7 linked regions of the Homo sapiens genome follow. The protein of the gene in region 2 interacts with the protein of the main gene of each other region in a pairwise test. Each region holds a gene or a part of one and is shown on either strand. Other genes may lie near its edges.

What was found.
Region 1: the proteins of BNIP1 (region 2) and STOM interact in binary tests that used the Homo sapiens proteins (3 or more experiments, as listed by UniProt).
Region 3: the proteins of BNIP1 (region 2) and HSD17B11 interact in binary tests that used the Homo sapiens proteins (3 or more experiments, as listed by UniProt).
Region 4: the proteins of BNIP1 (region 2) and TSHR interact in a two-hybrid assay, tested with the Homo sapiens proteins (one large-scale study listed by BioGRID and IntAct).
Region 5: the proteins of BNIP1 (region 2) and GPR35 interact in a two-hybrid assay, tested with the Homo sapiens proteins (one large-scale study listed by BioGRID and IntAct).
Region 6: the proteins of BNIP1 (region 2) and ELOVL4 interact in binary tests that used the Homo sapiens proteins (3 or more experiments, as listed by UniProt).
Region 7: the proteins of BNIP1 (region 2) and SLC7A14 interact in binary tests that used the Homo sapiens proteins (3 or more experiments, as listed by UniProt).

What each region holds. Positions count from the first base shown.
Region 1 is NC_000009.12:121,356,297-121,360,907, forward strand, and holds part of STOM (stomatin), read right to left. Parts: intron 1-4,611. UniProt on the Homo sapiens protein: Regulates ion channel activity and transmembrane ion transport. Regulates ASIC2 and ASIC3 channel activity.
Region 2 is NC_000005.10:173,161,512-173,165,979, reverse strand, and holds the end of BNIP1 (vesicle transport protein SEC20), read right to left. Parts: intron 3,908-4,468; coding exon of another isoform or gene 3,835-3,907; intron 3,669-3,834; coding exon of another isoform or gene 3,656-3,668; exon of another isoform or gene 3,620-3,655; intron 2,256-3,619; coding exon 2,059-2,255; 3' UTR 1,593-2,058; downstream 1-1,592. UniProt on the Homo sapiens protein: As part of a SNARE complex may be involved in endoplasmic reticulum membranes fusion and be required for the maintenance of endoplasmic reticulum organization. Also plays a role in apoptosis.
Region 3 is NC_000004.12:87,377,389-87,381,999, forward strand, and holds part of HSD17B11 (estradiol 17-beta-dehydrogenase 11 precursor), read right to left. Parts: intron 1-4,611. UniProt on the Homo sapiens protein: Can convert androstan-3-alpha,17-beta-diol (3-alpha-diol) to androsterone in vitro, suggesting that it may participate in androgen metabolism during steroidogenesis.
Region 4 is NC_000014.9:81,143,714-81,147,917, reverse strand, and holds the end of TSHR (thyrotropin receptor isoform 1 precursor), read right to left. Parts: coding exon 3,565-4,204; 3' UTR 1,612-3,564; downstream 1-1,611. UniProt on the Homo sapiens protein: Receptor for the thyroid-stimulating hormone (TSH) or thyrotropin. Also acts as a receptor for the heterodimeric glycoprotein hormone (GPHA2:GPHB5) or thyrostimulin. The activity of this receptor is mediated by G proteins which activate adenylate cyclase.
Region 5 is NC_000002.12:240,630,546-240,634,246, reverse strand, and holds the end of GPR35 (G-protein coupled receptor 35), read right to left. Parts: coding exon 3,365-3,701; 3' UTR 1,088-3,364; downstream 1-1,087. UniProt on the Homo sapiens protein: G-protein coupled receptor that binds to several ligands including the tryptophan metabolite kynurenic acid (KYNA), lysophosphatidic acid (LPA) or 5-hydroxyindoleacetic acid (5-HIAA) with high affinity, leading to rapid and transient activation of numerous intracellular signaling pathways.
Region 6 is NC_000006.12:79,922,842-79,927,452, forward strand, and holds part of ELOVL4 (very long chain fatty acid elongase 4), read right to left. Parts: intron 3,541-4,611; coding exon 3,353-3,540; intron 2,192-3,352; coding exon 2,111-2,191; intron 1-2,110. UniProt on the Homo sapiens protein: Catalyzes the first and rate-limiting reaction of the four reactions that constitute the long-chain fatty acids elongation cycle.
Region 7 is NC_000003.12:170,578,988-170,583,598, forward strand, and holds part of SLC7A14 (solute carrier family 7 member 14), read right to left. Parts: intron 1-4,611. UniProt on the Homo sapiens protein: Imports 4-aminobutanoate (GABA) into lysosomes. May act as a GABA sensor that regulates mTORC2-dependent INS signaling and gluconeogenesis. The transport mechanism and substrate selectivity remain to be elucidated.

The sequences.
Region 1 (4,611 bases), on a different chromosome or scaffold from region 2:
TACAGCCCTGAAGTGTAAGTACTACTTTCCCTTATCTATGTGATGTCATAACACAAGTATATTTCCACATTACTCATTACTTTATTCAGCAAACATTTATTAAGCATCTACTATTTATTAGGCCCTCTGCTTTGTACTGAAATGATAACAATGAGTAAGACCCAATCCCAGCTTTCAGGGTTAAAGTTTAGTGGGAAAGTCAGACAAACACATAATTATAATATTAGGTGGTAAGTACAGATATAGAGTATCTGTTCAGAATATTTTGAAGACACAGAATGAGTTAACTCACGCAGTTAGGATGGAGGTGAGAAAGGAATGGGGCGGGGAGGTGATTCAGGTGGCTGTCAGAGGGTTTCCTGAAGGATGTAATAGTAAGAAAATATCGACGAAAAGAAAGTGGAGGCTGGGCGTCGTGGCTCACGCCTGTAATCCCAGCACTTTGGGAGGCCGAGACAGGTGGATCACTTGAGGTCAAGAGTTCAAGACCAGCCTGATCAACATGATAAAACCCCGTCTCTACTAAAAATACAAAAATTAGCTAGGCGTTGTGGTGAGTGCCTGTAATCCCAGCTACTGGGAAGGCTGAGGCAGGAGAATTGCATGAACCCAGGAGGTGGAGGTTGCAGTGAGCCAAGATTGTACCACTGCACTCCAGCCTGGGCAACAGAGGAAGAATCTGTCAAAAGAAAAGAAAAGAAAAGAAAAAGGAAAGAGGGAAAAGGCATTAGAGCATTTTAGCTAGGAGTACAGTACGAATAAAGGTGAAAACCATATGATATGAGTATAAAGTTGTTTAGAGCCTCTTTTTAAAAATTACACCTGTAAAATATTTCACTAGGTTTATGCAGCATCATTTATTGCCCACTTCCTGATTACACAGGTTGTTTGATTTCTTAGTGCTATAAACAGTGTTGTAGTGAACATCTTTGTACACGGCTTTCCTCTCACATTTCTAATTGTTTCCTGTTCCTGTAATATGCAACAGCTTTTCCGTCTGATTACAAAGGTAATAATGCAAAAAATTCACAGAAGTATAACAAAGGAGGGAAAAATTACTTTAAATTCAGAGGTATTTTGGTATATTCTTTGAAAATTTTCCTAGTGTACACACCATATTTTTAAATGATATATATATATATATTTATTTATTTATTTTTTGAGACAGAGTCTTGCTCTGTTGCCCAGGCTGGAGTGCAGCAGCACAGTCTCACCTCACTGCAACCTCCACCTCCTGGGATCATGCGATTCTCCCGTCTCAATCTCCTGAGTAGCTGGGATTACAGCCACCTGCCACCACACCCGGCTACTTTTTGTATTTAGTACAGATGGGGTTTCACCATGTTGGCCAGGCTGGCCTCGAACTCCTGACGTCAAGTGATCTGCCCACCATGGCCTTCCAAAGTGCTGGGATTACAGGCATAAGCCACTGCGCCCGGCCTTAAATCATATTTTTAAAAATAAATAAATAAATAAAATGTGTAACCTATTTTTCTTCCCTGTAGCTATTCTCTTTCACCTTCTTTTTTGGCCTTCGTGGTTATGCATTTGTGTTTTTGAAGTTACACTTGCATAAAGTTTAAAAAGTCAAACCATTCTATATGATTAGTACAAAAAAAGGGCATTCCCATGCTCACCTCTTCCAATTTCCTCCTCCTCAAAAACATTTGCTATTTTGACCATTTTGATATCTACCTCCATATTTCTAAATAATACGCTTTGCAGCTGGGTGCAGGGGTCACACCTGTAATCCCAGCACTTTGGGAGGCTGAGGAGGGAGGATCCCTTGAGCCCAGGGGTTTGAGACTAGCTTGGGCAACATAGGGAGACTCTGTCTCTACTTTAAAAAAAAAAAAAATAATAATAATAATATGCTTCTGCCAGGCATGGTGGCTCACGCCTGTAATCCCAGCACTTTGGGAGGCCGAGATGGGAGGATTGCTTGAGCTCAGGAGTTTGAGACCAGCATGGGCAACCTAGTGAGACTCCCATCTCTACTTGAAACTTCTTAAAAAAAATTAGCTGTGTGTGGTGGCACACACCTGTAGTCCCAGCTACTGAGGAGACTGAAATAGGGGGATTGCTTGAGCCTGGGGGTTCGTGGCTGCAGTGAGCTGTGATGTACCCCAGCCTGGACAACAAAGTGAGGAAAGAAAGAAAGAAAGAAAAGGAAGGAAGGAAGGAAGGAAATGCTTGTTTTGTTACTTCTTGCTTTTTCAGTTTTGAGGACTATTAACTTTCTACTACAGAAAAAGATTTAGTTCTCTTTCCTCCCCGTTACCCCCACCACATACTTATACCCAGCTTTCCAATATAATTACATCATAACTTCATTTAGATCAATATGAGATTTTATATTATGAATTTGTAAGTGCAATTTAAAGCTAAGCCAAGTAGTGAGGTATCACTGGTTTTCTCTTCCTGTACTATTTTTGTTTTTTCTGGAATTACTGTCTTATTTTTTCCCTTTGTTCGGTTTTCAACGTACTTATTGATCCAACCTTAAATCAATTGCCTAAATTTCCTCTCAAAGAGGTCAGGTATACTATCAATTTTATCTTCTGGAAGAATTCTCTCTCAGAGCCTTGTGTGGACTTCCTTCATCTGGTGTGCACGGCTATCATTCTGCAATTGCTTTCACTATCATCCTGGGAACTCCCATCACCTCAGTGTTGTGTTCCTATTTTCTGTATCAAGTGTCATCCTCATTTTTAGTTTGCTTTTGCTTTCTGTAGAGGACATAGGGACTGAGAAGGCCAAGGGATATAGTAGGTTTTCTTATCAACCACTTGGAAGGCTTCTGCTGTATTTTCAGGAGCTATTTTAATGACAGAGGGGAGAAAAGGTATGCCAGGCACATGTTACTGCTCAGAAGAAAGGGCAAAATGGCAGTAAGATGGGGCTTGGAATAAATAGGAGGCCAAGAAATAAGCAGAGTGTTCAGGCTGGGAACATGGGAGAAGAGAGACACATGTTGGCACCCAGGTCAAGTGCTCTAAAACATAGGATGAAAAATCAGAAATATAGTGAGTACTTGGGTTGTATGTGACTTGGTAGTTTTCTGATCCTGTGTTATAGTGTGAGGTAAATGTCTTCATGTATACTTAAATAAAATGATCTAAAGTAATCCTGGAGGTTTCTAAGTTATAATTTAGGGGGTACAGACATATTCATTGAGAGAATATTCAAAGCAGGGCCATAGTACTGTTTGTGAAGAAAGCTTTATCTAGTATTACCATGACTGATCATAGCAACAGTGGCTGTTTTGAGGGGTTGTGTATACCCCAGGCATTTTTTAAAGTTACTTTAGACATGTATCTCATTTAACTCTTACAACAGCCCTGTGAGGGTATTTTTAAATCCCTTTTACAAATGAGTTACCTAAAGCAACATTTAACTTTCCCAAAGTCACACAATGGAAGACCTGGGACTCAAATATGGGTCATCTTACTCCAAAGCCCGTGTTCCAAATTCACCCCTCAATAAAAAAAATCCTCATTAAGAATGTTTTCGTGGTTGAGCACTTTCTCAAGACAGTATCCAAACTGAAAAGCATGGCTGGAGTTGTGAGAATGAAATCTGATATTTTTACAGAGGAAGTCCTCTTAATGCCAGCCATGCCTATTTATAGCAAAAGATAGTTTCAAGGCTCTGTGACAGACACAGGTCTAGGTTTCCAGGGTGAAATGAATTCCAAACAAGGACAGACTGACCACAAATACTTATTTATCTGACAGCATTTGGTGCCTTTTCAAATACTGTCCAAGTCTCCCATAACATACTAGAGTAAAAACTCCCTGAGGGCAGGGATGTTGCTTATTCACTTTTATATTCTCAATGTCTAGCACAGTATCCTGCATAGTAGAATAGATATAAAATAAAATACTTCTCAGCAAGTTTTCTAGCTAGATATGTCTTTTTCTTTCCTTTGAATCTCGATAGCATTTTTTGAAAATTATCTTATGGCACTTATATCTTGTCTAATCTTTTATTTTTTATTTATTTTTAATTGACCTTCCAATGTAGGATTTTAATCTTTTATTATTTTTTAATCTAATATTTTAATTTCTTGTGCATTTATATCCCTTATTACACTGAGATTCCCTGAGAACGAGGAGTAACTATGTTTGAATTTCACTTCTGATACTTCTTAGTTGCATGATCTTTACCTCTTTGAACCTTAGTTTCCTTACCGGTGGAAAGTAAAGATTATTAGGCTGGCCTTGTAGAATACAGATAAAATGATCAGTAAATGTAGATGATAGTTTTCTGTAATCCTTCTATTTTACTTAAGTGTTTGTATCTTCATGAAGAAAAATGGGAAAATAGCATTTACCCTTTTTGATCAAAAGCCTCTTAAACAATTTAATTTGCCATTTGCTTCATACCTGCCCCCAGTCTGGCTAGGCTGGGACATTCAAAGACTCTCAAAAAGTTCATTTATGATCTACATGAGGACAAGCCAAAAAGTTCAGCCCAGTTTTTTTTGTGTCAGTTCCCATGTCACATTGTGTTTTTGAGAACCCCAGATGTGTATATGGGATTGCAAATCACCAGGAACAAGGAATTAAGTACACATTTTGAAAACTGGATTTGGTCTTTCACATATCA
Region 2 (4,468 bases):
CCACACTTTAACTTGGAATCCACTCATTAAGCTGGTCTGAGATGTGCAGCTAGTTTTTTATAACTTGGTCCCATGATGATCTGCCACTTTATAACTGAGGCCTTAACTCTTGACATCCTCTGCTCAAACACCTCTAACAGAATGCTGGTGCCTGGCCCAGCTTTTCCTGAAGCACCGCTGCTGTCAGCTGCAGGAAACCTCAGTGCCCAGGGCCCAGGGGGTGGCAGCATTTGGAAAGGCCATGGCAGGCCTGGTCTGAAGACAGCTAGCTACACTTGCTGCTTTATATTCTCATTGGATTCTCAAGTTGACTCTATGAGGACCCATATGGATTATCACCTCCATTTTACAGATAGGAAAACTGAGGCTTAGCAACATAAAGTAACTTGCCAATGGTCCTGTGGTCCATTAGCAGTGGAGCCAAATCTCAAAACCAAGTGTTTGAGCCAAGGATCAAAGTCCATGTTCTTCCCACTTTCCCTTCAGCCTCCACACTGCCCTTCCCAGGTCCTCTGGGGCTATAAATAGTGGGGGAGGCTGGGATTTCAAGCTTGAGGTCAGCCAGGCCTGCAGCACAAAAGACACAGCACCTCTAGGACTGGCCTAGCCTGGGCCCTCTCCCTCTGGCCTGGACAGAACTCAGGCTCACACAGTCTCAGCTTCTCACTAGCTTCTCCCTCCTTGGTTATACTTAGCTCTGGACATCAGAGAGAAAGGCATGTGCCAGCCCGAATCACTGCACACCCCCAGGCCTGGCCAGGCTGCTGTGGTAGAGAATGGCATTGCAGCCTTTTCAGATGTTGGTGTGAGCCACTTCCAACAAGGGCTGTTTTCTGTTCTGTTTCTGTTTTTTTGTTTTTTTTTTTTAAATACAGACAGGGTCTTGCTATGTTGTCTAGCTGGTCTTGAACTCCTGGGCTCAAGTGATCATCCTGCCTCAGCCTCCCAAAATGCTGGGATTAGAGGTATCAGCCACCACACCTGGTTGAACAGGGGCTGTTGGACCCTCCTTCCTGATAGTCTGTGAGATTTTATTTCCGTGTCTCCTTCTGTTCCTCCTTGAGGGAGGAACCATGTCTGGTTCACCAATGTATTTGTCATGTTCAGCAGCGTCTATAACACCCTGTGTGTGGCAGCTGTTTAATAGTTCCTTGTTGTTGGGTGGGGACAGAAAGAAAATAACAATGCTAATTCGTTGTTGAATGAATGAATAAATAAATAATCTAGGTTCATGTCCTAAAAATCTGGACATCAAGAAAAGAGGGCTGGGCATGGTGGCTCACACCTGTAATCCCAGCACTTTGGGAGGCCAAGATGGGTGGATCACCTGAGGTCAGGTGTTCGACAGCAGCCTGGCCAACATGGAGAAACCCCATCTCTACTAAAAAAATACAAAAATTAGCTGGGTATGGTGGTGTGTGCCTGTAATCCTAGCTACTTGGGAGGCTGAGGCAAGAGAATCTTTTGAACCCAGGAGGCAGAGGCTGCAGTGAGCCAAGATTGCGCCATTGCACTCCTGCCTGGATGATAGAGCAAGTCTCCATCTCAAAAAAAAAGAAAAAAGAAAAGAGGAACACACATTCCCAGAGGGCTATCTTACAAAATCAAATACATTTTATTCTATTAAATAAAATCAAGTTTATTCAAGGAATGACCAGGAGTTTTCATCACCTTTCTTCCTACCTCTTCTCTCTTCCCTCCACCAGATCTGGCATTTAAGGGCACGATGGGAGCGGGAGACAGGAGGGGCATCCGGTCCTGGAGGCTGGACTTTAAGTGCTCCACGCAGCAGCGGCCTCCCATAGTGCACAATGGTGGAAGGAGGCGGTTCGTATGTCCCCAGGGCGGCATCCCAATGCCAGACCTTCCTCCCATGGCTCTGTTCACCCTTTACAAGCCAGCTACTTGCAGAAAAGTGGGGCACTGTGTTCCATCCAACCTGCAGGCAACTGGTGCAAACGGAGGGGTGTGTGGCTCAGCTTAGCAGCCTAGAGCTCAGGAACCAGGACAGATCCTGAAACAGGAGCTGAAAGGGCCAGAACTGGCACCTTTGGGATCTCACAAAAATGGAAAGAGCCGCTTTTTCACAATATAGAGGACCGTAGCAAGAAACAGGGCTAGCGCAAGGAAGATGAGAAGCTTGTCCGTCAGCTCCCGGCGATTGTATTTTGTGATAAGCTTCCGGCCCAGCTGGATGGTGCCCGACATGGACTTAAATTCTTCATTTGCATCCAGGATCGTTCGTGAAGAAGTGACTGAAACAAAAGAGGAAGGAGGCCCAACTCAGAGACTGCAGCTCAAGATCCAAAGACCTCACTCTGCTGGCTGGGGTGCTGATAAAAACCAGCATTCTCAAGTGAGTTCCTCTGAGCTGGAATCAAAGCATGTGGAGACCAGCCAAGGAGCTGACAAGGAAAGGCTCCTCCCCAGGTCCCATCAGCTCCAGAGAGTGAGGGGGGGTTTGTCTGGGAGTCCTTGAACATGAGCGTCACCAGGGAGAAGGGCAGAAGAGGCTTGCTCACCCAGCCACCTCCTCAGCTCTCTGAAGCAGATGGACGCTGCTCAGGGAAACCACCAGCCACAAAATCAACCCAGGGATCGTGGGCAGGCACTGTGAGGTCTGTGTTGGGGCAGCAGCCAAATGCACCAGAACCTTCCACCTATGAGGTGCGGCCTCCAGGACATCTGCTGGCCAGACCGGCACTTTGCAGGATCTCAAAAGGGCAAGGGTGTCCCGGGCTCTGCCGTAAGCCCTCACACATACCAGTCCCTCAGGCCAGGGATACTGGCTGTAGCTTTAAGGAGGTGACACCTAAGAAGAGGCCCACGTCCCTTAAGGAATCACTGTCCCCAGAGTCAGATGTATTTCTGAATATGGGTATCTGGGCCTGACGCTGAGGGTAGAAGGTGTACCTGGCGAGGTTCTCCCACAAAACATAGCAAGGCATCATCAGAACAGCCATTGAATAGAACACATTAAGTGAAAAGGGAAAGTATAAAGGAACGCCTGTGAAATGTTTCCATTTAGGTAAGAAACAGGGAGATAAATGGTATTTCATTTGCTTAAGTTACAAAAGCTTGGAGGATCACAAGATATTTTTTAAGACACTGGTTACAGAGGTTGCCTCTGGGAAGTGGACCAGAGGGCTGGCAGGTAGGGGTCAGCTGGAGGTCAGAACAGAGAGTGATCTTTTTTGTGTCCCTTTTGTACTCTCCAGAGCTGTGCTGACCAATATGGCAGCCCCTAGACATGCGAGGCTGCTGTGCATAGAAAAACGTGGCTAATGCAAATGGAGATGTCAGGAGATGTAAGTGTCAAACCCACACAATGTTTCTTTTCTTTTTTTTTTTGAGATGCAGTCTCACTCTGTCACCCAGGCTGGAGTGCAGTGGCGTGATCTTGGCTCATCACAACCTCCACCTCCCAGGTTCAAATGATTCTCCTGCCTCAGCCTCCCCAGTAGCTGGGACTACAGGCATGCACCACCACGCCCAGCTAATTTTCTTTTTGTATTTTTAGTAGAGACAGGGTTTCAACATGTTGGTCAGGCTGGTCTCGAACTCCTGACCTCAAGTGATCTGCCCGCCTTGGCCTCCCAAAGTGCTGGGATTACCGGCATGAGCCACCGCGCCTGGCCAAAATCCACACGATGTTTCAAAGACTTAATCTAAGAAAAAGGAATGTAAAATATCTCAATAGTTTTTAATATTAGTTTTACATTGAAATTATAATATTTTACATAATGGGTTAAATAAACATCTTACTAAAATTAATTTCTTATGTTTCTTTTTACTTTTTAACATGTGCCTACTGGAAAATTTAAAGTTACATACGTGGCTGCTGTTGCGTTTCTATGGCAGTCCTGGGCTAGAGTTTTCTTATCCTTCTCTATGCTGTATGTGTTACCTTTTTAAAAATTAAAAGCTAATAAGTAAATAGGATAAATTATCAGAGGAAACACAGCAGCGTTTTGAAAATGACAGATAAAAGGAGAAAAACAAACACTCACAGAACAGGAATCCCTCTCCGCCTGCTTTCTCCACGCCTGCCTGCTGCGATTTCAAAACCCTGAGATCTTGCTAAGTAAAAATCTAATAGGCCTTTCTTTTTAAACTTTATTATTACGGAGAATTTTGAACCATCACAGAGCAGACAGCATAATATCATGAAATGCCATGTGTCCACCACCCATAACCAAGAACCACCAACCTCTGAAATCCTGCTCCCCCTCCCCCCAACTGCAACTACTCCTGCAATTGTGGAGCAAATTCCAGACACCATATTCCTAATAAGCTTTTTGTTTTAAAATTATGGTCCTAGTAGGCTTTTAAATCAAGCTGAATTTGTGAGGCATAAGGAAAGGGTTAAGAACTGTATTCTTCTCTTTTCTTCAATAGTTATCGCTTGTACAAAATGGGCCCCAAGAACACCGGGACCCTCTCAACACCCCAGAAGCCACCAGCATTT
Region 3 (4,611 bases), on a different chromosome or scaffold from region 2:
GCAGTGAGCTGAGATTGCGCCACTGTGCTCTAGCCTGAGCGACAGAGCGAGACTCTGTCTCAAAAAAAAAAAAGACTATACTCAAAAGGGGACCATTACAGGTAATGTAACTTTTTTTCAAAATAATTGTTATATCTTCTGGACTAGAATATAATCAATAACTATCTCTTCAACTAAGAAAGATCATAGAATCTTGATGCTTAAGCCCTACTTTTTATAAGATTGGAGTACCATAATTCCAAGGGGTAGCAATGCAAAAATACCTTATATGAGATTTTTATGGTTCCATAAGCAACTAAGATGCTTGGGCGGATAGACCCTAGCGTCCTAATGCATTTTGTTATACACTGTGTTTCAAATGAAACCTAGCTCTATTAACAGAGTTATCATTATTTAGAGATAGTGCTACAGTGTGTTGGGGGACTGAGGGAAAAGTGGCAAATAGCCTATGAGGGGCTTTTACTTTGTTATGCATTTACATGATTTCATTATTTTTCTTATTGAATTCTCACAGTAACTCAATGAGACAGCAATTCTTATATGCTCACTTTAAAGATGAAAACATGAAACAGAATGGTTGAGTTTCATACCCAAGGTCACATGGCTATTAAAAGATGGAGCTGGGACTCTCCCAGATCTGTCTGACGTCAGAGCCCAAGACAAGCCACCCCAAACAGAAAGGAGGCCATGGGCAAAAGTCTACCAGTACTCCTGTAGGGCATCAATCTGCCATGCTGAAGGCTCTTCAGTCAGAATTGAATTTCATCAGATTATATTTACGTTAGTAAAGTGTCAAGCTAAGTTTTTTGACCCTGATCAACACCATTTATACCTATATACTATTTTATATTACCAAAGGATTTTCCCAGACACTCTTGACCCTTTCTTCATCATTGCCTATTACCTCCCCAGGATATGAATGTCTGTTTTGTATTTTTTTGTATTAATTTTGTTTTTAAATTTTTGTGGGTACATAGTAGTGTATATATTCAAGGTTACATGAGACATTTTGATACAGGCATGCAGTGCATAATTATCACATCAGGGTAAATCAGGTATCCATCCCCTCAAGCATTTACCCTTTGTGTTACAAACAATCCAATTATACTTTTAGTTATTTTAAAATGTACAATTAAATTACTATTATTAATCATTTTTACTAACAAAAAATTCTTTATGGCTGCTCCTTGCAGAGCAGGGCTAACTCACAGGCAGTGCAACCAGAGTAGCCTATTTGTTCTAATTTTTGGTACCCATTAACCATCCCTACTTCTTCCCTACACCACCTCTACCCTTCCCAGCCTCTGGTAACCATCCTTCTACTCTCTATCTCCAAGAGTTCGATTATTTTAATTTTTAGCTCTCTCAAATAAGAGAGAATATGTTTTGCGTGTATATATATATGATTTTATATATATATATAAATATAAAATATATATATAAATATATATATATAAATATATATATAAATATATATAAATATATATATATAAATATATATATATAAATATATATAAATATATATATATAAATATATATAAATATATATATATATATATTTATATATATATATTTTTTTTTTTTTTTGAGATGGTGTCTTGCTCTGTTGTCCAGGCTGGGGTGCAGTGGCATGATCTCAGCTCACTACAACCTCCGCCTCCCAGGTTCAAGTGATTCTCTCACCTCAACCTCCCAAGTAGCTGGGATTACAGGCACCTGCCATCATGCCCAGCTAATTTTTGCATTTTTATAGAGACAGGGTTTCATCATATTGGCCAGGCTGGTCTTGAACTCCTGACTTCAGGTGACCATGTTGCCCAGGCTGATCTCGAACTCCTGAGCTCAGGGGATCCACCCACCTCGGCCTCCCAAAGTGCTGGGATTCTAGGCATAAGCCACGCTCCAGCAGATATATTTCTATAAAGCATTATTTGCCTCTTCTAGATACAATTGAGATGTGCTGTATATAATGGGGTTTCACTCTGAACGCATTCTTGCTTGTACCTAACTAACTACCTTAATGTCAACAAGGTCATCAGAATTACTTGGGCAGATTCCTGGATATATATATAATATTTATATTGTTATATTTATATTATATAATATATATTATATATACATATATAATATGTACATATATACATATACAGCATTATATACATATACATCTACATATACATCTCATATATACATACACAGCATTATATACAGCACAACTCATATATACATATATGTATTATATTACACATATTATATGTATATGTATGTATATTATATATTAATAGTATAATATAGTATTAGTATACTATACTATTATATTAGTATATAATAATAGTATATACTATTATTAGTATACTATAGTATAATATAGTATAACAGTATAATATAGTAATAGTATATTATAGTATAATATACTATAGTATTATAGTATTAATAGTATATGTATTATACTATTATATATGTATATGTATATGTATTATACTATTAATTATTATTATACAGCACATCTCATATATACATATTATATTATATATTTATATATACTATATAAGTATATAATATTTATCAGCCTGTATATATATATTACAGGTATCTGCCTGTAATCCCAGCTACTCGAGAGGCTGAGGCAGGAAGATTGCTTGAACCCAGGAGGCGGAGGTTGCAGTGAGCCAAGATCACGCCACTACACTCCAGCCTGGGTAACAGAGCAAGACTCTGTCTCAAAAAAAAAAAACGTTCTGATACTAAAATGATACTAAAATGGCCACCTCAAAACAGCTACTTCAAAATATCTGATTCTCAGCTTGCTTTCATTATTAAGAAATATACAAATCCCAGCACTTTGGGAGGCCAAGGCAGGCGGATCGCGAGGTCAGGAGATCGAGACCATCCTGGCTAACATGGTGAAAGCCCGTCTCTACTAAAAATACAAAAATTAGCCATGCGTGGTGGCGGGCATCTGTAATCCCAGCTACTCGAGAGGCTGAGGCAGGAGAACTGCTTGAACCCAGGAGGCGGAGGTTGCAGTAAGCCAAGATCACACCACTACACTGCAGCCTGGGCAACAGAGCAAGACTGTCTCAAAAAAAAAAAAAAAAAAGAAAAAAGAAAAGAAAAGAGAAAAAGAAAAAAAGTTCTGATACTAAAATGGCCACCTCAAAATAGCTACTTCAAAATATCTGATAATGGGCTAGGCGCGGTGGCTCACGCCTGTAATCCCAGCACTTTTGGAGGCCGAGGGAGCAGATCACGAGGTCAGGAGATACAGACCATCCTGGCTAACACGGTGAAATCCCGTCTCTACTAAAAATACAAAAAAATTAGCCAAGCGTGGTGACGGGCGCCTGTAATCCCAGCTACTCCGGAGGCTGAGGCAGGAGAATGGGGTGAACCCGGGAGGCGGAGCTTGCAGTGAGCCGAGATCGCACCACTGCACTCCAGCCTGGGCGACAAAGCTAGAGCTAGACTCTATCTCAAAAAAAAAAAAAAAAAAAAAAAAAAAAGAACTCAGGCCAGGTGTGGTGGCTCACGCGTGTAATCCCAGCACTTTGGGAGGCCAAGGAGGGTGGATCACTTGAGGTCAGGAGTTCCAGACCAGACCACCCTGGCCAACATAGTGAAACCCCATCTCTACAAAAACACAAAAATTAGCCCGGCATGATGGTGCGTGCCTGTAATCACAGCTACTAGGGAGGCTGAGGCAGGAGAATCGCTTGTGAACCCGGGAGGTGGAGCTTGCAGTGAGCTGAGATCACGCCACTGCACTCCAGCCTGGGCGACAGAGTGAGACTCCATTTCAAAAAAAAAAAAAAAAAAAAAGAACTCAAACCAAAAATTCCATAAACAAAGAGGTTCTCAAGTCTTGCTGAATCACACTTTTTATACTGCACTGAATTAGAATATCCAGGGGTAAGGTCCAGGAATGTGTATTTTAAGGAATCTGCCCAGGTAATTCTGATGACCTTGCTGCCATTAAGGTATTTAGTTAACAGGTACAAGCGAGAATGCGTTCAGAGTGAAACCCCATTATATACAGCACATCTCAATTGTATCTAGAAGAGGCAAATAATGCTTTATAGAAATAGATCTGCTGGGAGCGTGGCTCATGCCTATAATCCCAGGACTTTGGGAGGCTGAGGTGGGTGGATCCCCTGAGCTCAGGAGTTCGAGATCAGCCTGGGCAACATGGTGAGACCCCGTTTTCTACCAAAAATACAAAAAATTAGCTGGCGTGGTGGCACACACCTGTGGTCCCAGCTACTTGGGAGGCTGAGGTGGGAGGATTGCTTGATTCTGGGAGGTGGAGGTTGCAATGAATCGAGATCATGCCACTGCACTCCAACCTGGGTAACAGAGTGAGACCCCCCATCTCAAAAAAAAAAAAAAAAGAGAAAAGAAAAGAAATAGATCTATCTACAATAAAAACCTGATAAAGAATAGCTTTATTGTAACTTTCTAACCCAATTCTATGAATGGGCTTCAGAAGACCCTGTCAGCAATTCTGCAAGTGTCATCCAGGCATAGTTACCTATATGAGCATCATGGGTGAGATGAAGGCGCATGGGAGGCAGGGTGGATGTATTTGAGGCCCTGCCTTCAACCTACTGAAAG
Region 4 (4,204 bases), on a different chromosome or scaffold from region 2:
ATTTCTCTGAAGTTATTAAGTGAAATTAAACAACAATATTCTGTTTATGAATGATCTATTTTCTCTGGAGAAATGTTCTTTTGTACATTCTGGCCTTGTGTGTGTGTGTGTGTCTCTGTGTCTGTGTGCTATTGATGTGCAGTTTATTTCTCTCAAATGTCTGGCAATTATTGTGTCTTCTTTATATTTTTGAGTGAAGAATGAGAATAGCTAATGTCAGCAGATTGTATAGATCATTTTCCCCAAGATGTTTCTCCCTGACTTCAGGTGGGGGTGGTGGGGGGTGCTGATGGTAACGCCTCAATGATCAGGCTTCACTTATGTGTGAGGGCAGGAAGTGGGCCAGTGGGAGGAGTTCCCTGTTTACAGGAATCATTCACTTTCTTTGAGATATTAATTGCAGCAAACACTGCATATGTCAGTTATTCTATGAATGGAGTGATGGCAGATTGGAGGGTCCAAGTGACACAGACTTTCAATTAATTGCCCTAATTAACCCTCAGTCCTGTAACCTTCAGGCTTGGCAGGCTCACTGGGACTCTGCAGGGAAGTATATTCTTCTGTAGCTGCAGCCTTATCCTGTCAGTGTTCTAGGCTGTAACCTCCTGTACAGTTAGTTACCATCAACTCAAGGCCATACACCTTCCATCTTTCAGAAAGCTATCAACACGTTTGCTTTGCTGGTGGTTCTATTTCTCCTGTTCACCATGCAGTTTTGGCTTGGTCTCATTTTAAATTTCTTCCCTGTCATGTCAGTGGGATTTGAAAGAAAGTCAGTCTACCACTTGGAGCTGGAACTTTTATAGCTTTTAAAACAGAATGCAGTGATGCCAACAAGTTTCTCTGGCACCCTTTAGGTACTCAGAATGAATGAGAATCACTCAATTATGTTATGAAACAGTTTTCTCCTAAAGTAGGAGCATTTGTTCTCAAACTTCTATTGTTTTAAAAAAGTATTGTGGTTATAGTTTTCTTCTTTTTGCCCTGACTTTTACTTTATTGCCACTCTCATGGTGCTGCCCTGTAAGACCCTCTCCTCATTGGCTGCTTCTTTGATGCAGTAGATTATCCTTAAAGCAAGAGTCAATAAACTTTGGGGGTGTTTTAAGAGACAGCCTTTTGAGAAACATGCATGAGCTTTAGAGAATGAATTGTGTGACCTCCACTGCGACTAGTCTGTGGCCATTTATCCTCAATGATTTGGGTTTATCTTCAGATAATTGAAAGGTGCTAGATAACATGAGCTCTGAATAATAATAAGGCCTCTGAGGCCTTAGAGGTTTATTGTCTTCATTAGCACACTATTTAAATTTCTAGTGTCAATACCAATCATTTGCTTGATATATTTGGTTTTATTGTTTTTTCTCTTAGTGATCCCTGTCAATTAATCATAATTCAGTTCACCAGGAGTAAGTTTTTCCACATAAAGACCACTTTTGATCAAGACACAATGTTATATTTAAGTTATTAATTGACAGTCAACAACTTATTTATTAATATGGATTCATTAGCAAATGTGCCAATTAGTTTTCTTGTCTTCAGTTTTAACACATACAATAGTAACCCCGAAAGAAACTCACAGATTAACAAAAAAGAACAACACTCTAGGACTTGGCACGATTATTCCATAGGAAGAAAATTTATTTCATGTTGTGAGTGCAAATTTTAGTAACAATTCTGTTGAAGTCACTTTTCTAGGACTCTGTTTCCAAAGCAATTAGTTCAGCTATTCAAGATGAAACACATTATTTATCAAGATGTGATATTTTGAAATGTCACAGGAGAGAAACACATGACAAAAGGCAACACATTTGTTTAATTTCATTAGTTACAAGCGAACTTCTAGGTAAGTCATGATTTTCGATGTTTATAATATTTCTATTAAGATGTGCAGGTCTCAATGATAGTGATGAGTGGGTATGGCTGTGGAGAGATTCCAGGTGAGTCCAGCAGGGACCATCTGTGGGGACCCATTAACGACACTTCACAATCTTAAAACAACAAAGAGCTTTTATTTCATGGTGTGGTTTATGAGCATTCAGAAGTAATGTCATCTCTGCTTGGAGACTTTTCTAGCAGGACATTAGGGGGCTATCATCACAGGTAACCTGGAGAGTACATCTGTAGATAAAGATCCTGACTATTTTAAGTAAAGAAGAATTATTGGGGAAAAGAAGCTTTATGTCCAGTGATCAACAGGGCTGGAAAGAGCTGGCAGTTTCAGAAAAGAAGAAACCTCTCTTGACAGCTTTAGTATCATACCGTGGACTGGAAATGGCAAAAATCATCCCTAAAGACAAGCGAAGTGTTTTGAAGTGACTCTTCATAGTGAAGTAGCAACTCTAAATAGCCAAAATTTGCAACCATCGTTTACTCTTTTATATAAACACGAATCTGTTTTTGGCCTGATATAACAGCTGGGTAGATCTAGTAATTAAATGAATGATTCAGATCCAGGCGAGTATGTTTACTTAATTGAATTTTTGGCTCAGACATCATAATCAAAAGTGAAACAAAGGAAAAATTTCCTGGGTCATGTGTCTAGGCTTCAAGGACTAGGAGTCAGCAGCCCTACAAAATAGGAAAAACAGATTCTACTTACTTAGTGCTCTTCTTTCTCTTTATCTTAGAAATATATATTTGAGGGAAAGGGATGTACTAGAGTTTTAAAATTGGAAGAAGCTATTGGACTCCTTCATTTCTACAGATTTAAGTCCCATAGTTAATTAGTGTCCAGCCTGTTTTATTAATCAACAGGGGATTGAGTGTGCTCTGCCCATAATTCCCACTTATTGCTACTCAGAAAGACTTCCTAGAGTTCACATCTTTTATGCTATGAGGCTGGCCAAGAAGAGCAATTCTTAGTTTGCTAGGCCACATAAGCTGAAATCTTGCCAGTTTTTCCAGGCAACACATAATAGCTTGGTCACATCAGGTGGATTCTTGTGAAGAGATGATTAATAGGTTGAGTTAAAAAACAAAACAAAGCAAAACAAAACTTAAAGCTAATTCTTACCCTCCTTCATGTCTCATAATAGCTGTTTCTTGTATGACAGCTAGCTGTGTTTGGCTTTTCAGTTTTAAGGAAATCAAGTTCTCTTTGTATCAGGGAACATCTAGTTGAACTGAGCCAACGTGGGACTGATTTTATCTTGTGGTCACCAACCAAATTAATAGCATTTTCCATTTGCTGAATCTTTAGTATGAAATGTTATACAAAACTGAGAAGCTCTATATTGACATAGCTCAGTTAATATTTACTGAACATCCTACACAATGACATCTCTGGACTTGGCATCAAGAAAGTCTTCTAGATAGTGTAGATTATTTTGATTTCACCTGGCATTCAAATATGCTGGTAGCCTAACTTCCTTCTTGGGGGCAATGATTAGGTTAATACTAATCACTCTCCAGAGATAAACTCTTGCCCCATGAAACATTGAAACATCGCCTGCACAAGAGTGAGGGCAGCTATGTGTTGGGGGTGTCATGGGATTGGAATGCATATTCAAGAAACTATTATTTTGTAAGTTCCCCTACCATTGTGAGTAGTGTAGTGTTAACTTACAAAACCGTTTGCATATACTCTTCTGAGATTTGGCCTTGCTTCTTTGGGGTTAGATGGGAGTTTTCAATCAGTTCATAGACATCTTCCATGTTGTGGAGACCCTGCCTCATCTCGTGGGTAACCTTTTGAACCTGAATATCAGTGCTGTTCTTTGGAGGAACCCTCTGCCCCCGGTATGCCTGAGCCTGGCGTTTACAGATGCCAAACTTGCTGAGTAGGATGAACACATCCCTCTGGAAGGCCTTGGTGAAAATAGCATAGAGGAATGGATTGGCACAGGAGTTAAGTGGATAGAAGAGTACCAGCAAGATTTTGGAGTTGCTAACAGTGATGAGAGGCTTGTTCAGAATTGCTGACAGAGCATAGAATGAGATTGGGGCCATGCATATGAAGTCGGTGAAGATCAACACAGCCATCCTCTTGGCAATTTTGGTATCTTTGTCCCCTGGGTTGTACTGCGGATTTCGGACTGTGATGTAGATCTTCACATAACAGCAGCAGACGATGACGAAGGCAACTATGTTGAGCGTCAGAACAAAAACAATATATGCCAGAGCAAGAGGGGTCTCGGTGTCCATGGGCAGGCAGATACTGACTTTGGCATAGCTACTTATTCCCACCAAAGGAAGCAGGGCG
Region 5 (3,701 bases), on a different chromosome or scaffold from region 2:
CCATCAGTGGATCTACCATTCTAGGGTCTGGAGGATGGTGGCCTTCTTCTCACAGTTCCAGTAGCAGTAGGCAGTGCCCCAGTGGGGATTGTGTGGGGGGGCTCCAACCCCACATATCACTTCTACACTGCCCTAGCAGAGGTTCTACATGAGGGTTCCACCAGTGCAGCAAACTTCTGTGTATCTGCAGGCCCAACACCACATGTAAGCCACCAAGGCTTGGGGCTTGCACCTCTGAAGCAAAGGTCTAAGCTGTACATTGGCCCCTTTTAGCCACTGCTGGGATGTGGGGCACCAAGTCCTGAGACTGCACAAACCAGCAAGGCCCTGGGCCCCAACGACAAAACCATTTTTTCCTCCTAAGCCTCCAGGCCTGTGATGGGTGGGGTTGCTGTGAAGACCTCTGACATGCCCTGGAGACATTTCCCTCATTGTCTATGCTATTAACATGTGGCTCCTAGTTACTTATGCAAATTTCTGCAGCTGGCTTGAATTTCTCCTCAGAAAATGAGTTTTTCTTTTCTATCCCATAGTCAGGATGCAAATTTTCTAAACTTTTATGCTCTGCTTCCCTTTTAAATGTGAGTTCCAATTCCAAATCATCTCTTTGTGAATGCATAAAATTGAATGCTTTTAAGAGCACTCTTGAATGCTTTGCTGCTTAGAAATTTCTTCTGCCAGATACCCTAAATCATCTCTCTCACATTCAAAGTTCCACAGATCTCTAAGGCAGGGGCAAAATGCTGCCAATCTCTTTGCTAAAGCATAGCAAGAATCACCTTTATTCCAGTTTCCAGCAAATTCCTCATCTCCATCTGAGACCACCTCAACCTGGAATTCATTGTCCATATCCCTATCAGCATTTTGATCAAAGCCATTCAACAAGTCTCTAGGAAGTTCCATACTTTCCCACATCTTTCTGTCTTCTTCTGAGCCCTCCAAACTGTTCCAACCTCTGACTATTACCCGGTTCCAAAGTTGCTTCGACATTTTTGGGTATCTTTACAGCAGCACCCCACTCTCTGTGGTACCAATTTACTGCATTCGTCTGTTTTCATACTGTTATAAAGAACTGCCCAAGACTGGGTAATTTTAAAGGAAAGAGGTTTAATTGACTCACACTTCAGCATGGCTAGGGAGGCCTCAGGAAACTTACAATCATGGCAGAAGGTGAAGGGGAAGCAAGGAACCTTCTTCATAAGACAGTAGGAAGGAGAAGTGAAGGGAAGAGCCCCTTATAAAACCATCAGATCTCATGAGAACTCACTCACTATCATGAGAACAGCATGTGGGAAACAGCCCCCATGATCCAATTGCCTCCACCTGGTCTCTCCCTTGACACATGGGGACTATGGTTATTATAGGGATTACAATTCAAGATGAGATTTGGGTGGAGACACAAAGCCTAACCATATCAGCCCTCCTGGGTATGGACTCTTCTGGACATGGACCTTCCTGGGCATGGACACTTTTAGGCATGGGGCCCTCCTGTGCATGAACTGGCCTGGGCATGGACCCTCCTGGGCATGGGCCTTCCTGGGCATGAGGATCTCATGGGCATGGCCCTTACTGGGCATGGACCCTCATGGGCATGGGGTTCTCCTTGACATGGTCCTTCCTGGGCACAGGGCTCTGTTGTGTATGGGCCCTCCTAGGCATGGACCTTTCTGGACATGAACCCTCCTGGGCATGGACCCACCTCAGCATGGACCCTCCTGGGCATGGAACCTCCTTGACATGGACCCTCCTGGGCTGGACCTTCCTGGGCATGAACGCTCCTTGACATGGGCCCTTCTGGTAATGGATCTTCCTAGGCAGGGACACTCCTGGGCATGAACCCTCCTAGGCATGAATCTTTCTTGACATGGAGCCTCCTGGGCATGGAGCCTCCTGGACAGGGACACTCCTGGACATGTATCCTCCTGAGCACAGGGCCCTCTGTGCACGTGACTCTCCCGGGCATGGGGCCCTCCAGGGCATAAACTCTCCTGGGCATGAACCCTCCTGAGCATGGACCCTTCCAGGCATGGGACCCTCCTGGACATAGACCCCCCCCAACCAGGCATGGACACCCTTGCGTATGGACCCTCCCGGACATGGGACCCTTTTGGGCATAGAGCCCTCCTGGGCACGGGACCCTCCTGGGAATGAGGCCCTCCTGCTCATGGACCATCCTGGGCATGGACCTTCCTGGGCATGGGCCCACCTGGGCATGCACCCTTTTAGGCACAGAGCCCTTATGGGGCTCTCCTGGGCATGGGCCCTCCGGAGCCTGGGTCCTGTGAGATGCCATCAGCCGCATGCTTGTGCCATGTCCCTGCCAGAACATGACTGCCATCTCTCTCCAGTCCTGTGGAACATGGAACAGGGTGGGGCGGTGCCTGTGGACATGCAATATGGGATGACAGGATGGGGTTTGAGCCCAGGCCGTGCTGGCCCACACTCACAGGAGGTCTCTGGAGTGCCCTGTCCTTCCAGCTTGGGTTTCGAGATGCCCTCCATGCAGGAGTACAGGAGAGGCAGAAACCAGCAGGACATCGTGCCTTTACCTGAGTGGGCACCCAACCCCTGCCCCTGCCAGACATGGTTTCCAGCCTTTCCCTGAAGGAAGGAGAAGAGGGCTGGGTTCCTTGACAGACCCTGGCCACCCCCTTCACTGCCACCCACCCCAACCCACCCTCACCTGCTTGACCTTGGTCACCCCCCCTTGCACCGCTGTGCAGCCCCTACATGGAGATCAGCTGCTCCCAGCCCTGTCTTGAGCAAGGAAACCTGGGCTGGGGGCCTCTACTGTGGTCCTGCCAGGAGCTTCCAACAGCCCCTGCTCACGCTCCAGGTGGGTGGGGGTGGGAAGGGGTGAAAGGGTCCAAGGGGGACCTCAAAGTGAAGAGCCCCGAAGGGTCCCTGGAAGATGTCCGCCAGCCCTCTGAGCCACGCGCTCCCTCCCTGCCTCCCACCACACGAGTGCGAAACACAGAGGGCCCCACTAGGACTGACTCTGGGTGGGGAGTTTTATTCCAGCCCCGAGGGGCAGCGGCAGGTGTCATCAAGGCTGCACCCTGGCCAGCAGGAACCCACTCTGGCCAGGTGAGCTGGTTCTGGGGGTGGCAAGTGTGAGGCCCCATCCCGGGGGTCTCTGACATTGGCCTTGCTCTGGCCTCAGTCCTCTTGCCCTTGTCCCTGTCCCTCTCTCTTCCCAAGAGAGCAGGTACCTGGGCCGTCCCTGCCCACCCAAGGCTCCAAGAGAATACACAGTGAGTTCAGGGCTGATCTCGGGCTCCTTGCTACTGGTTCCAGCTTCCCCTGGCAGGCAGCACCTCCCGGAGCCCCCGAGACCTGGCCCACAGCGCCCACAGCACGCCTCTTAGGCGAGGGTCACGCACAGAGAGTCCTGGCTTTTGTGGGCCTTAGCACTGGGAGCCACGGCCAGTGCAGACGCCTCCTGGAACTCCTTGGCCATGTAGTAGTAGCAGATGGCGTCCAGGCAGCAGTTGGCATCTGAGAGCTTGCTGGTTATGTACAGGGCGCGACGGATCGTCTCCAGGAGGGCACAGGCGTTCCAGCCCACTGCGAGGCGCACTGTCAGCCCCACGTGCAGGGGCAGGAAGCAGACCACGAACACCAGGAGGTTGGCCCAGACCATGCGGGCAGCCTTGCGGGTGGCCTCTGCCTGCCCCACGTCGGTGGGTGGCCTCTGGGCC
Region 6 (4,611 bases), on a different chromosome or scaffold from region 2:
GAAAGCATATAAGAAACAAAGTATTTACAAACTGAGAATTATTTACTGAATTTACTTGAAAAATATCATTAAAAATGATATGAATTGGTTGAAAATAAGCTTGAAATAGTTAACTACTCCCAGCAACACTATAGTTAATATTCACTATTATATTAGTTCTTTAAAATAAAGTAACTGTCACCATTTTGGCATCGTAACCTTTAACTAGAAGGAAAGATACAATCTCTTATTTCTCCTCTATCTGGACCTCTACATTTGCCACAATTCACATAAAATAACAACAAATAAGTCTGCTTAGTTTGCAAACTGCACTAGATATCTTTAAATAAACTACACCAAAAAGTGATACTTCTTGGCTACGTAACAATGAATACAGAAATGAGTCTCTGCGTAAAATATTCACTCTATTGCATCCCATATTAGAGAGGAGAAGAGAGCACGAGGAAGATTTCAAATGAAATCTGTTGCAAATCTCAGGTTCTTTATCCTCCTAGATTACAGTTCTCATAATAGCTCATTTTTTAAAGACTTGAAAATTTACATCTGTAAGTGAGAGTGGTATTTTTAAACCTTTATCCTAAAAATAGTAATATGTTGCCCCACCCAAGGGTTTTTCTATGCATACTCCCAGAAGTCAGTCAGTCAAACACTTATCCCTGTTCCCTTCCCTACGGCAAGCAAGAAGTCAGCCCTCCAACTGAAGAGATTCTTTGGCAATAGTTATCAGAAGAAAATTTTTCATAGCCAATACATCTGAGTAGTCTCTCATTTTCTCTCAGTCACCTTCTAGGTTTTATTTCCTCCTTAGTCATTTGTTTACATGGCTGCTGTCTGCCTTCTCACCCTCACTAAAATGCCAGCCCCACAAAGGCAGGGCTTTTCACCCCTGTCCCCAGTACCAACATATAGTAGATGCTCAATACATATTTAATGAATAAATAAAACCAACATGACAACCAAGACAGGTGATTTTTCATCAGTCCATAAGTCTTCTAATAGGGAAATGAAGATACGTACATAAAATTGTTAAGTACATTAAACCAATTTTGTCTCCAGTCTTGATGAATACTGATATTTATATATTGTCCACTCCCCATGCCAGGAAACTATTTTTCTCAAGGGAAGCCACTAGATATTATTACTACATATACTATAGGTAACATAAAACATGTTATGTTTTATATGTAATTTCTAGTATGAACCACAGTATATAAGAAGAGTTCAATAAATACGTAATAGAATAAGGTAATCTGTTGTTTCTTTTGCTTAATGTTAATTTTACTCATGTAAGTGAATGGAAAATAAAATATAACATCTTGTTACTAGTGTTTTATTTTTCTGCAAATATAAAAAAACTGAGTTTATGCCAATACAAATTGTTCTATGCCTAATTTCCTAAATATTCCACACTTCACAAAACATTTACTTTTCCTCACTTTCTTAACACATAACTTGGACTCTAAGAGTTTCTACTCTTGAGCAAAAACAAACAAACAAAAATCTAAAATAATGTCTTTAAAATAAACATGAGACTTCTTTGCTTTAACAAGTACTGCATTCTAGTAATTCAATGCATATTCACTCATGCTGCAAAATAAAAAACATTTTTGAGATACAAAAACAAATTTTAAATTAAGTACTTTTTAAAAAAGCATAGTTTTACTGACTCATAACAATCTAGTATAATTTCACTATCATATTAAAGTACATTTTGCCAGGTGTGGTGGCTCACACCTGTAATCTCAGCACTTTGGGAGGCTGAGGCAAGAGGATCCCTTGCGGCTGGGAGTTCAAGACCAGACTGGGCAACATAGCAAGACCCTGTCTCTACAAAAAGTAAAAAAATATCTAGGCATGGTGGGGTACACCCGTAGTCCCAGCTACTTGGGAGGCTGAGGCAGAAGGATCAATTGAGCCCAGGAGTTTGAGGCTGCAGTGAGCTATGATCATACCACTGCACTTCAGTCTGGGGGACAGAGCAAGAAACTGTCTCTAAATGAATGTTAAAGAAACTGTCTCTTAAAAAAAAGTACATTCTATATTTTCACAGACTGGGGCCTATAAAAATCAAACCACTTTTACTGATTAAGAGTATTTTTAATGTACTTACCCTGACTTCATGAACATTATTAGAATAATCCACACTCTGGCAAATATAGCTATATCCCGCATTATATGATCCCATGAATAACTGGAAAAAGAGTAATAATATTTGTAGTAAAGTTTTAGTAAACACAGCATTAAAAACACAATTATATACAAAATGTAGCCTTTCAAATTATTTTAAACACAATATTTTCTTTAAAAATTTCAAATGCATTAAAAATTTCATGCATTCCGATTGCTAGAAGTTACTGTGCATTAATTTGTTCTATAATTAAAATCTAAATTAAAAATCACATGTAAATTTTATACTGAACATTGACTCTATCTATTAAATACTTCACAGTATTAAGAGAAATTTTTATTGCTAGGACTCAGATTTCAAAGTTGTCCTACCTTAACTGGTTTCTATGTTTGATCCAGAGTGGTTTGCATCTAACAAATTAGGTACAGGTATCCAAATAAATTAAAGTGTTCATGAAGTTGAGACTCGAGGCTAAGTTTTCAAGTAAAGAAATATTTCTTTTTCTAAGAAGAGTTATTGTTTATTTTCCTAGCATTACTAGTCAGTTCTCTGGCTTCATACAGAATTTTAATGAGTCTCTTAGGAAACAAATTCTTTATACATATGCAATTTAAAAAATGGCTGTGTCAATCTAGCCTTTAGGATTTCCTTTGAAAATGTTGTGGAGAATTTGCTAGTGCCCAGAAAAGTATATAATGATTAGTAACAACAGCTATATGGCAGTTAATTCATTTTAATTCCAGCCCAAAATACAACATTATGTAATAGGATTTACTTGAAATTGGCATATTTTGATCAGTTACCAAACCAGAAACTACTGAATAAGAATTATAAATAAATAGCTGCTACTGTTTACTGAGTGCTTAATACGTGCCAAACACTATGCAAAAATTATCTTACTTTACTCCGATAATAACCTGAGATGGTAGGTATTTAAGTGGGGAAAACGAGGCTAAGAAAAGTTAAATAACTTTCAATGCCAGAACAGCTAATAAGGGTTACTTTAGAATCCAGTTGGTCTTATTCAAAATTCCACTTTAAACAACTTTCCTATACCTCATGTTTAATATTTTTGTTATTCAAAAGTGAAAAATGTCAAAAATGTACTTTTAGAGTAGCTAACAGTTATGTCTGGGTAAAATATTACAATGATGGTTTTACACATTCTCATTTTTAAATTTCCAATAACCTTGGAAAATTATTAAAGTGATCTTAAAAACATACCTCTCTGAAGATAAAGAGGTTAAGCAAAACCATCCCAAAATTATAGATAATGAGCACTAGACGCATCTGAAAAGGTTCTCGGTCCTTCATCCATTTTGGACCCAGCCACACAAACAGGAGATAAAGAGTGCTTATACTTAGTGTAGGCCAAGGAGACTGCATCAGAGGCCAATTTTCCACACGCTTATCTATAGAGAGAACAAAATACCATAAAATTCATTAATCAGTAAATGTTTTATAAAATACACTTTTTAGGAATCAAGATGTTTCAACTTAATTTCCTAATTTGACTAAATACGGATCACTGTCCTTTGAGTCCCAACAAAAAATACATGGTATAAAAACCAAAGAAACAATACTGACTCCTGCAAGTGGCTTTTGAAAATTATGCTTCATTACTTATGTCACACATTATGTTTTACAGAGACCCTACAGAACAAAAACAAGAAATAAAGCGCACTAAAAACAGAGGTGGTTATCTTGGGATGAAAAGTTAATGAAAAACTTCATACACAGAAAATAAATATGTTAAGGAAACATTTGTCTTCCATATTATACACGTGAAATTTATCAGGGCAGCTTGGAGGCTGCTCTGTGTGTCCACTCCTAAAGCAGGCAAGAATGTAACTGGAGAGGTACGTACGGGGCGATGGTAGCCATTTGCTGAAATATCTCGAGACACTGAAGACAAGAGTACAGGGGCACTGAGAGATTAAGTTAGGGTTAATTACAATTCTATAATGTAAACAGTCACCATATTCAAGACATTTTTCTAACTTTTTCATTGAGAACATGCACCTATTTTATTCCCATGAATAACTAACTTGAATGTTTTTCTCTAGAGCTGTAAATCGCATAACTTACATATGTGTAACTATATATATAAAATGCAACACATTATTTTACTTAAAATGAATTGATTGTCCAGCATATTCAAATACACAACCATAAATCAATTTTATAATGGAATGTTGCCACAAGTAAAACATTTCTGAAACAAGCATGATAATGAAATATGGATGGGATTAACAAAAATTCATCTTTTAACACATTATAAAAATATATTAATATTAATTTTTATATTTCTAAAAGCTAAACAACAGTTGAAGGTTGCAAATCTAATTTCTAGTTTATTCTTGGCAATGCAAAACATTTTATGTCGTATTTTGAAGAAATAATGTATTTTTAAAGTAGTAAAAGAAAATTCAACTTCTTAGAACCAACCTAAATGAATTTAACTTAATTGTTGATCATAATAA
Region 7 (4,611 bases), on a different chromosome or scaffold from region 2:
CCTTGACCAGTAGTTCTTTCACCTGGAGGTACAAAGGGAAATAATCTGAAATCCAAACACATACTCTTTCCTACTCCCTGAATCTTTGAGAAAAGATAAACCTGAATCTTTGATAAACTCATAGACTAAACAAGTTTTCATGACTAATGAAATGATGCATGATGTTAAAAAATGCAGAGTGGGTTCTATAATTGCCTGAGAGAGAGAAGACTCAAGTCATATTCCTCTGACATCAACTCAGGTGAGTGTTCCCAGCATCAATTTCTCTCTAAAGTGAGAGAGTTCAGTTATGTGATTGTTATAAAATATTGACATAATAATATGTTGTATAATCTCTAACAAACAATTAAGCCTTTCCATTTCTGAAGACCATTTTGTCAACAGAATGTTTAAACACCTGGGTGCAATTGTTTCTTATTTACTGATTATTTTTCAAAAACATGGAAAAATTTTTTTAAAATGAAGAGAAAATGAGAACCAGCTTGATCATTTGTTGTTCATTGGGTTGGAATATTTTGCCTTTGGCAAATAAGAATCAGTTAATTCTAGGCGTTTCCTTATTGACTTGCTAGAATAGAATGAGCTGTTTTTCTTTCATTTTTGTCAGTAATCACCAGTTAAAACCGTTAAAGGGAAGCCTTATTATTCCTGGAAAAGGATAATATTCTGTAAACCATCAGACTGCAATGTCGCTAGTTCTCCTCTAATTAATATATGTGCTTTCATTCTAAGCTAAGCTTCTTCTGAATTTAGGAACAATAGCAATTGCCTGCTGCTATCATGAAGGCCAGCCAAATACTTTCTGAAGGAAATGACAGGTATCTCTTCAAGATAAGAGTGGAAAAGAACACACAACTCCATTTAAGCTTTGAGTTTCTGAAGTTGCCTCATCACAGTGAAATGCAAGGCCCTTGGGCTGATTTGTGCTTTGTTTTCTGGGTGAAGCAGCAAGACACGGTTCTCAGGAGTAGTCTATCTTGGCCATCACTATTTATGCCCCGAGAAGGGCTAGAAGTGTGGTTATTAGGGTAAGATTTGATATACTGTGTTTGCCTCCTGTTTTATTTGCTAAAGGAAAATGCCATAGGGAATACTGAATTCTTGGTAGAGATAGACGAGTGTATGGCATGAATTAACCTGGAACAATGGTCTGAATTCACCAAATATTTATTGATCATCCATGTGTTCCAAACATCCTTAACCACAACATTTTTGTGTCAAAATAGGACATTCTTCAACTATGTTATTGATTAAATGGATGATTGTATGCTATTAGGATTTGTTTCAAAGCTACATTGTCAGTTCTCTTTATCTCTTGGGATCTACAATTAGAGAAATCCTTTAAGCTACAGACAGAGAAGAACTCTTTTCAGCTCCAAGGTAATGGCATTTTCCCCTTTCCAAAATCCAGGTCTTTCCAAGAGGTAAACAAGTCCAATGAAGTGAATAAATCATGACGCCCAACAACATATGTTTATTGTTAAAGCTAGCATCATCTACTAGAGGCCAGAGTTAACAGCTTCGCTTATTTTTCCTTCAGTAATATAGTCCCATATGCAACAAAGGCTTGAGGACAGCAGGCTTGACCAGAAACAGTGGCTAAGTGTATATCTCAACTATTTACCTGGCAGAGCATCTTACAAGGTAGCATCTATACCTTTGTTAACTCTAAACAAAGGTAAACTAGATCTCTGGAACTGGAGATAAAACCTCATGCCCTTGGTCATACTCAGCTTGATTCTCAGGTGCTTTGTTAATGAATGAATGAATAAATAAAGTGACTTCGTTGAGTTTTCAAGATGATAAAACCTAATAAATACAGTGAAGAAACATCTGATGGAATAGCTTTGTTTCCAGGCTTATTTTCTACAATATCTGAGCACTGTGTTAATCTTTGTGTTATAAGAGAAAAATATTTAAGTATCAAAATCGTGAGCCACTATAGAAGGTATGGCTGCATCTGAAAAGCAGTTTTACTTGACGCATAAATAGCATACACAGATCAAAGTGCGGGAGTAGGTCATAGATGCCAGGTTTGGGAGTAAATGTTAGCCAGATGCATAAGGTTCTCCTAATGACCCCAACAGATTTCAACTTAGAGAATGAATAAAGACTTGTTATTTAAGGTTAGAATCCCTAATGCAAACTCAATAATTCAGTCAAGTTAATGACCTTCACTTTTGTTTTGGTTTAATCAATGCATGAAATAGAATTATTCTTGTTCTGATTGATCTATGAGAATGGATAGAAGCTCATTTCAATTTGTAATTAGTAAAAATATGTTTTGAAAATTATCCCTCTCACCCCCTCACACTGAGGAATATCCATAATGCTTGTATTTTGTTATTTCTGAACCCCTATTACCATGATGGGTTCATTATTGATGATTACTTAAAAACTATTAGTTAAAAGGTAAAAGCTGTTCCAAACAACTTAGATTTCCTAGTTATTATTTTTTTTAATCCTGAGAAGAAAATGTTCAGGACCAAATAAACTAAACAACAAACAATGCACGGTATTTCAATTAATAGAATCTAACCAATCAGAAATTTCAATAACTAAATTTTTTCTTCACCGTTCCACTTTTCAGTGAAATAAATGACCACAAAGGCAAAAATACAGTCATATCAGATTAAAATCATTCAGAAATGCATTCAGCCTGAACTACCCTATTTGTACATTGTACCATATCTATATAAAATAATAAACCATTGCAGATTCAATCATGCTCCTTACAAAGTACTTTCGTATACCTACACTTTGAGTTTTACAATAGTCCTTTGAGATAGTTATGGCAATTCTCATCAACATCTTAGAGATGGAGAAATGGAGCTCTAGAGGGCCTCATAATGTCACCAAGTAGTATGTGACACCTGTACTACTGACTCCAAGTCTTATATTCTTTCCATGTCTATCATACTATGATTACTAAGACAAGATAAACACACACACATGTTATTACATATACATGTAATCTATAAACTTGGATTTTGAATTGGAACTTTCAGATTGTATCTAAGTCAAAATTCATGAAACCAGCAAACCTCATTCATGGAATATTTTACTTTATAGTAACATAGAATTCATATGAAGCAAACTCCAGAGGCTACCAGCTCCTTAAGTAAGACATGCACACTCCTTCATAGCCTAATTGTCCTAGGTATCTTTGGGCTACTGGTGATGTATTAGGCATAAGTGGCTTTTTCTTTCTTTCTTGGCAGAAGATTCAAAGAAGAGTAGGTCCTTACTTCTTCCCAGTTCCTAGTTCTTGGTTGCTGTGAGGGTGTGTTTAGTACTGTCTAAAGCAGCATTTTTCAACACAACTTTCTTAAATGATAAAAATTTTCTGATATCTGCCCTGTCCAACACAGTTGTCATTAGCCATATAGAGTTATTGAGCACTTGAAATATGACTAGTGTGACTGGGGGGCTAAATTTTTAATTTTAAAAAGTTTAATTAAAATTTAATTATAAATAGTTACATGTGGCTAGCAACTACCATGTTGGACAGAGCAGTTCTAGACAGTTTAAGGTTCTGGTTCACAGGGCCCAGAGCACCTCAGCAATAGCATTCTTGACAGATCACCTAGTGAAGGTACAATAGAAGTTATGTATTTAATTACAAATTATACCTTAATTGGCTCTAGAGAAGGTTTGAAGCAGAATGTTGACATTATCAATAAGAAGCCATATGGGAATTTTTAAATAAGAGATAACAAATGGGGAGAATATGTTTGGTAAATATTAAGAGATGAGAGAGCAAAACAGTGTCATTTGAACTGAATTTGAATTTCTAAATGCTATGTTTTGGAGCAGGATGGAACTATCAATTAAATACAAAAATCCAATTGATGAAGATGAGACTTTACTATGAGCTGGAAAGAGAAGAAAGAGGAAATGAACAGAACATCAGGTTCTGCTGTATGTTAGAGCGAACTAGAATCCTAGGACCATCTTTAGTGGAGCCACCTACTTGACAGAATTGTGATAATTCAGTAAAATGATTGATGAAATAACTTCACATAGTGCCTCACATATGATAAGCATTTCATAGATATTAGCACTTATAATGATCTTTATTTATAAAAATCCTTAGGTCTTATTAGGGCCTTTTCCCAGTCCCTATGAGAACATGGGCAGTTGCTTAGGGTAACCAATTTTGGGAAAATTATTTTTTGGGGAATAGGTCATAGAAGAGGAGATATAGACAAGATAGGGCAAGTAAAGAAATGACACACTACCATTCCCATTTGTGAATTGCTGCTTCAGAGAAAACTGTTACTGAGGAAGGTGGGTCATATCTCCCAGGTATGTTGGGTTAGACAACACTGGAATAGTAGGACCAGAGGGGAAAGAGCTGGAAGACAAAGGAGTTGGAAGAAAGGTAAGAGGAATGCTTGTATGTTAAGTGTTTGTATTTTTGGCATGTTGTTTAATTTAGTTCACTGATGCTGACGTTTAGTCAAAGATAATCAAAGAAAGCAGTATGGAAGAGTATTTCAGACACCATGAAATAGTGGGAAAGGCCCTGGGCCTGGAATCAAGTTAACTGGGTTCTAATTTTTCAATCATGTGACTTAGACTAATGACCATCTTTTGGTTTCCAAGTTT